Linked DNA regions of Homo sapiens. The protein of the gene in region 2 interacts with the protein of the main gene of each other region in a pairwise test. Each region holds a gene or a part of one and is shown on either strand. Other genes may lie near its edges.

Region 1 (3,500 bases), on a different chromosome or scaffold from region 2:
AATATTATTTGTTTATTTATTTATTGAGATGGGGTCTCACTCTGCCACCCAGGCTGGAGTGCAGTGGTGCGATCTCAGCTCACTGTAAGCTCCACTTCTCAGGCTCAAGCAATCCTCCCACCTCGGCCTCCCGAGTAGCTGGGACCACAGGCGCATGCCACCAGGCCCAGCTAATTTTTGTAACTTTTTGGGTGGAGACGGGGTTTCACCATGTTGCCCAGGCTGGTCTCAAACTCCTGGGCTAAGGTGATCCACCTGCCTCAGCCTCCCAAAGTGCTGGGATTGCAGGTGTGAGCCACTGTGCCTGGCCAAGAATATTGTTTCTATGAAAAAAGTTAATACTTTACTTTGGAAAGAAAATATGCTGTCAAACTAGGAATGGAATGAATAAGACAGTTATTTAAAAAGTGGAAGTGGGCTATAAAAATCTAGAAAGAATCAGCATTCAGGTTGCATCAGTGTCTAAGATCTTATTTGACTTTAAAGAGACCCAAACTGGGAATTATAAGCAGTGCATTGTGGGTGTAGGATATGCAGAAAAACAACACAGAAGTCTAATCAGTGAATTCATATTCAAAAGGCCTTATATTTTTTAAATAGCAAGTGATTCTACATTGATATATTTCTGATAAAATATTGAAATATTTTAAGATATGTATAATGTTTTATGACTTCCTAGCATAAGACCTTTTTCTTTTTTGAGACAAGGTTTTGCTCTGTAGCCCAGGCTGGAGTGCAGTGGCGTGATCAGAACTCGCTGCAACTACCTCCCCAGCTCAAGCAATCCTCCCTCCTCAGCCCTGGAAGTAGCTGAAACTACAGGCACGTGCCACCACACCTGGCTGATTTTTTATATTTTTTGTAGAGATGGAGATTTGCCTGCCTCAGCCTCCCAAAGTGCCAGTATTACAGGCATGAGCCATTGTGCCCGGCCTTAAGACCTTTTGATTAACTGATCAACTATTGTCCTGACTATATCAAATAAGAGGATTTCTAACTCAGGAACCTCTCAACATCTAGCACCATTTTCCAGAACTTAGTTCATTTAAAGAGGAAACAGGAAATCCCAGAGACACAAAGTAATACAAAAAGTTTCACACTTACTGTCAGTTCCTTCATGGTAATGTTCAAATACTGGCAAAGTAACACCTGTTAAACACAGAAGCATACATGGATTCATAAACCTTTAAGTTCTCTCTTTTTTTTTTTTTTCTGAGACGGAGTTTTGCTCTTGTCGCCGAGGCTGGAATGCAATGGCGTGATCTCGCCTCACCGCAACCTCTGCCTCCCAGGTTCAAGCAATTCTCCTGGTCAGCCTCCTGAATAGGTGGGATTACAGGCATGCACCACCACACCCGGCTAATTTTGTATTTTTAGTAGACACGGGGTTTCTCCATGTTGGTAAGGTTGGTCTTGAACTTCCGACCTCAGGTGATCCACCCGCCTAAACCTCCCAAAGTGCTGGGATTACAGGTATGAGCCACCGCGCCTGGCCTAAATTCTGTTTCTTAATCACTGTTTTCTGTGTTTCTTTTTCATCAAACTCAAAAATCAAGAGCTTAAGTATGGAATTGTAATTGGTTTCAATTAATGAATTTAGGAACTTGCCTTCTTTTTTTTTTTTTGAGACAGAGTCTCACTCTGTCGCCCAGGCTGCAGTGCAGTGGTGTGGTCTTCAGCTCACTGCAACCACCGCCTCCTGGGGTCAAGTGATTCTCCCACCTCAGCCTCCTGAGTAGCTGGGACAACAGGCACATGCCATGCCCAGCTAATTTTTTTTTTTTTTTAAAGATGAGTTTCGCTCTTGTTGCCTGGGCTGGAGTACAATGGCGCAATCTCGGCTCACCACAACCTCTGCCTCCTGGGTCCAAGTGAGTCTCCTGCCTCAGCCTCTCAAGTAGCTGGGATTACAGGCATGCGCTACCACGTCTGGCTTATTTTGTATTTTTAGTAGAGACAGGATTTCTCCATATTAGGCTGGTCTCGAACTCCCGACCTCAGGCGATCCGCCCACCTTGGCTTCCCAAAGCACTGGGATTACAGGTGTGAGCCATCACACCCGGCCTAATTTTTGTATTCTTTGGTAAAGATGGGGTTTCACCATGTTGGCCAGGCTGGTCTCGAACTCCTGACCTTGTGATCCGCCCACCTCAGCCTCCCAAAGTGCTGGGATTACAGGTGTGAGCCACCACATCCAGTGGAACCTGACTTCTTTATTTTTTTATTTTTTATTTTTAGACAGAGTCTTGCTCTGTCACCCAGGCTGGAGTGCAGTGGTGCAATCTCGGCTCACTGGAACCTCCGCTTCCCGGGTTCAAGCGATTCTCCTGCCTCAGCCTCCCAAGTAGCTGGGGCTACAGGCGCGTGCCACCAAACCTGGCTAATTTTTGTATTATTAGTAGAGATGGGGTTTCACCATGTTGGCCAGGCTGGTCTCGAACTCCTGACCTTGTGATTCGCCCACCTCGGCCTCCCAAAGTGCTGGGATTACAGGCATGAGCCACCGTGCCCAGCCGGAACCTGCCTTCTTAAGTGTTCACTTCTATACAAAAGTCAAGTTATCCTGAGTAATTAGAAACCTGGTTGTTAATGATTTTAACATGTAAAGCCAATCAACTTGTTCTAAGTAGAAGGAAGAAACTAGGACATTAAGATCTTGCTGTATAAACAGGTTAATTTTAAAATGTCACCTCTTTTCTCCCCAAAGGGTTTCTAAAAGGTTGAAACGTTACCTGCTACATTATCTTTCTTCGCTCGAATCTTCACTTGCGCTTTATTGACATTTTGGATAACTGTAGTGCTGCAGAAAAAGAGAAAGACTTTATTTAGCAGACTCTTCAGAAATAAACCTACAGGGACCCACTGGATAGTTTTAACATTAAATGAGACCAAGAGTGAGATGTCACAATTAAGTATGTTTTGATAACTGTCCTTTTTCCAAAAAGGGAGAAAAGTCATTACTGCTAGAGGAGGGCCTCTGAAAGCAGAGAATGAACAATATTCAAAACATTAGCAGTAAGAAAAGAACAAAGAATGATTTTAAAGTTCGTGGATTGCTTATGTTTTCAGTCAGAGGTGTGCTACATGGATATAACTTTAAGGATTCTTCTGCTAGTGTGAGATAGAGAAAACTCCTTTCTAGGTTTGCTATTGAATTGGTTAAGCTGGCGTTCAATTCCTTTACCCTGGAAACTATGTTCCATCTGGCTTTGTGTGACTTCTCAAATGTTACCAGAAAGTGCCTTCCTGGCAGGGTGCGATAGCTCACGCCTGTAATCCTGGCACTTTGGGAGGCCGAGGCAGGAGGATTGTTTGAGGCCAGGAGTTCAAAACCAGCCTGGGCAATGTGGTGAAACTCAAAAATACAAAAATTAGCCAGTCTCATAACCCAATCTCAAAACAAAACAAAAATAAATATTATAGAAAGTATCTTCCCCATAACCACCCTAAAACACTCACATACCACTTATACACTATTGATTGATCTCCACCCTCTGCTA
Region 2 (3,500 bases):
TAGCTAGAAGAACAAACATGGGAAAATACTAGGAATGCTCTGATTAAGAAGAATGAAGAAAAGACCAGCCCTATAAGATATTATAAAGCAAAAGCAATTAAAACAGTGTGGCACAGACACCTGCATGAAGAACAGTATCTAAACAAGACAAAACACAGCTCCAAATATGGTAATGATCCAGAAAAATGAGTTAATGGAGGTGTCCAGCAGCATAAGGTAAGCAATGTGAAAGAGGGTCCAGAGATAGAGGAGTTAGAAGATGCCACACAAATATGGAACAAATAGGCTGCAGGCTTCTTTTTCAAATTAGCCTGGCAAATTGTGGCCCCTCTGGTCCAATCAGCAATAAAACCACATAAAACCACAGGTGCAAAATTCCAAAATATAAGCTTTAAAACTACAAGTTCTCTTTCCAACTCATTGGGCAGCAAAACCTGATCTGAACTGACATGAAGCTATTTAGTTTCTCTATTCCACCCCATGTGAACATGGAATTTTCAAGTTTCACTGGCAGAAATACTAATAATTAACTTCTGCAAGCTGCCCCAGACACTGCTGGGGTGTTACATAATTCAGACCATATTACCTCACTAAAATGGAAAACACTTCTTTTTTTTTTGTGACAGAGTCTCGCTCTGTCACCCAGGCTGGAGTGCAGTGGCACAATCTTGGCTCACTGTAACCTCTGCCTCCTGGGTTCAAGTGATTCTCCTGCCTCAGCCTCCTGAGTAGCTGAGATCACAGGCATGTGCCACAGCGCCCAGCTGATTTTTTGTATTTTTAGTAGAGATGGGGTTTTGCCGTGTTGGCCAGGCTGGTCTCAAACTCCTGACCTCAAGTGATCCTCCCGGAGCCTCAGCCTCCCAAAGTGTTGGGATTACAGGCATTGAGCCACCGTGGCTGGAAAACACATTTTATCTCAAGAGTTTGGAATAAGGAACAATGTGTCTATATTAGATCCAAGATTTTTGAACTAGAGAGTGATATGTGTATGCTGGTAGGGAAGGATAAACAGATTTCTAACATTTTATAATGTTTTATACTAAGCATTTGGTTTTGATATGGTCTCTTGCTGAATGTTTCAAGCTTCTGAGAGTAAAAGTAACAGGAAGATCTTGTTGAAGTCAGATTCCAATTCTTGTGCCAACATTTACTGGCTGGCTGAGTTTAAAGCAAAACCCTTCCTTCTCTGAGCCTCAATTTTCTAAACACTAAAACAGAAAGACCACCTATACGAGCATTGTTGGAGAACAATCACTCCTACACAGTGAAGGGACCGCACCCTGGCTCCCAGGTTCTCAGTCAGTGGTCACTGACGGCAGCTCCTGGTGCAGGACTTTCTACAGGCCCACAAGTCTAACCTTTCAGGCTAGACTGTACCCATCCTTCCTGCTCTCATGCCAGGCAATGGTTACTTCACATTTTGGCTTCTGGGCCAGTACTCTCAGACAGAAATGGTGCCAGAATTTCTAACAGGAGGGTCTTGGAGAAGGGTAGGGAGCAGCGTAGCGTGGTGGGGTGGACAGGCTAAGAGACTTGTGTTAGGGTTGTGTTTGCAGAGCAGGCACACTGCTTTTAGTTACATTGCATGCTTATGAAAATTCTGGGGACAGGGGCCAACAAAGCCCAGGCTACCATTTGGCATCCCTCAGTTTCTACCCTTTTGAGAGAATGAATGCCACTGGTCATGGCTAGCTCACAACGTGGATGCATGTTTTCAGCCATAACATACTTGACTAAATGCTAGGGATGAAGGGCCCATTGCAGTCCAAGAGAAGACTATGGAACAAATGTCCTGAAATGCCCCAGGCCAGCAGCTGTATAGGAGATACCTGTTGCTGTACGTGGCAGATTCCAGGTTACTACACAAGAGGCTTTCACTGTACTTCTCAATAGCTTTCTTATGGTTTCCCTTCTTTACAAGCTCATTGCCTTCTTCCTTCAGAACTCTGGCTTTCTCCACATCCCCAGCAGAAGGCACTAGATACAAATTCAGAAGAGGAAAAAAACCATGGAGCAGCACCCAACTGAGATCAGTGAGGTCTCTTCAGCATCGTCCCTTCCAAACTGACTACAATCCTCTCTCCCAGAGATTTCCTCCCCTGCTGTAAATCATCCTTCCTGATTAATGACTTCCCCCAATTAATAGCTTCTGGGCAATTCAACAGTTTTTCATCAAGAAGTTGGGGAATCCTGATATAAAAACATTTTTGCATGCACATAAAAATATATAAATGATAAAAAGCAACCCAGGTTCTAGCCTTGGCACTGCCTCTTGGTAGCTGGAAGATCTTGTGTGACCTACCTAACTTTTGGACCTCAATTTCCTCACCAATAAAATAGGGCAATACTAATTCCACAGATGGCTATTTTCAGGGTCAAATCTGAGAGTATGTAAGAAAGTACGGAACACACTATAAACTTAAAGCAGGACAATAAGTAAATAAATACTAATAAACAAATATCTGGTAAAGAAAAGGTATAGCTTCTGGGCTATGAGAAAAGGGGAGAAGAGCCTGCTATTCCTCATTTCTGGTTTGGGCTGAGCCTGTGAGTATCCTCCCTCATCTAACACATGCAGCTCTGCTCCAGCCTTCAAGGAGAGGAAGCAGAGGGAACATGGTGAAATCCAAGCTGCTCAACTTGGTGTTCAGGCCCTTCACTGCTTGGCCCCAATTAATTATTCCAGCCTCAGCTCCATATCATCTGCTTTTCAAAAATTTTTAAAACTATCTTTATAAAATACTAAATATTTATGACCAGGGTAAGATTATAGGTTTACACCCTGAATTCATTGCCTGGTTTAAGAAAAAGAACATAACTAGGACCTTTGAAGTCCTGGGGGACCTTCCTCAATTCAATCCACTGCTGGAGGAAACTATTATCCCCAATTCTGTGCTTCTTCCCCACCTTTTTAAACAGTATAACTATATACAACAGTACCCACAGATCATTTGCTGTTTACTTTGTTTTTGAACTTCATACAGAAGAATAAGTCTGTGTATTCTTTTATGACTTGGTTTTTCTTTTTCCCCTTAATGTTATATTTCTGAGATTCATCTGTGTTGATGCACAGACCTGCAGCTCCTTCATTTTCATTGCTGCAATACCAAAGCTGAATTGTCCATTCTCCCATTTATGGAGATCTGGGTTATCTCCAGTTGTTTTTTGCTATTACAGTCTTCTACGAACATTTGTGGGTACATCTCCCTGTGCACATGCACACAGGTTTCTCTTGAAGTAGGGCTTCAGCTTCACTGGCACCCTGCAACACACCACTCTGCAGTCATCCTTATTCCTACTGTTCCCCCCATGCACTTTCATTCTCCAACTCTCTCCACTGTCTCTGCCAAGGATTCTCCTTCCTTCCCACCTGATGACCTTCTTCAAGGTCCAGCTCAAGGCTCCACCTCCATTGCCACCCCTTCTGAGTCTTTCCCCGACTCCCTCATGCACTTAAGTCAGTTTCTATCCTGAAGTCCTCAAACACTAAGACTCTA

Evidence for each region. The genes of interacting proteins can lie anywhere in the genome.
Region 1: the proteins of TOMM34 (region 2) and ATP6V1D interact in a two-hybrid assay, tested with the Homo sapiens proteins (one study listed by BioGRID).

The regions. Positions count from the first base shown.
Region 1 is NC_000014.9:67,346,305-67,349,804, forward strand, and holds part of ATP6V1D (V-type proton ATPase subunit D), read right to left. Parts: intron 2,801-3,500; coding exon 2,733-2,800; intron 1,150-2,732; coding exon 1,105-1,149; intron 1-1,104. UniProt on the Homo sapiens protein: Subunit of the V1 complex of vacuolar(H+)-ATPase (V-ATPase), a multisubunit enzyme composed of a peripheral complex (V1) that hydrolyzes ATP and a membrane integral complex (V0) that translocates protons.
Region 2 is NC_000020.11:44,946,898-44,950,397, forward strand, and holds part of TOMM34 (mitochondrial import receptor subunit TOM34), read right to left. Parts: intron 1,981-3,500; coding exon 1,833-1,980; intron 1-1,832. UniProt on the Homo sapiens protein: Plays a role in the import of cytosolically synthesized preproteins into mitochondria. Binds the mature portion of precursor proteins. Interacts with cellular components, and possesses weak ATPase activity.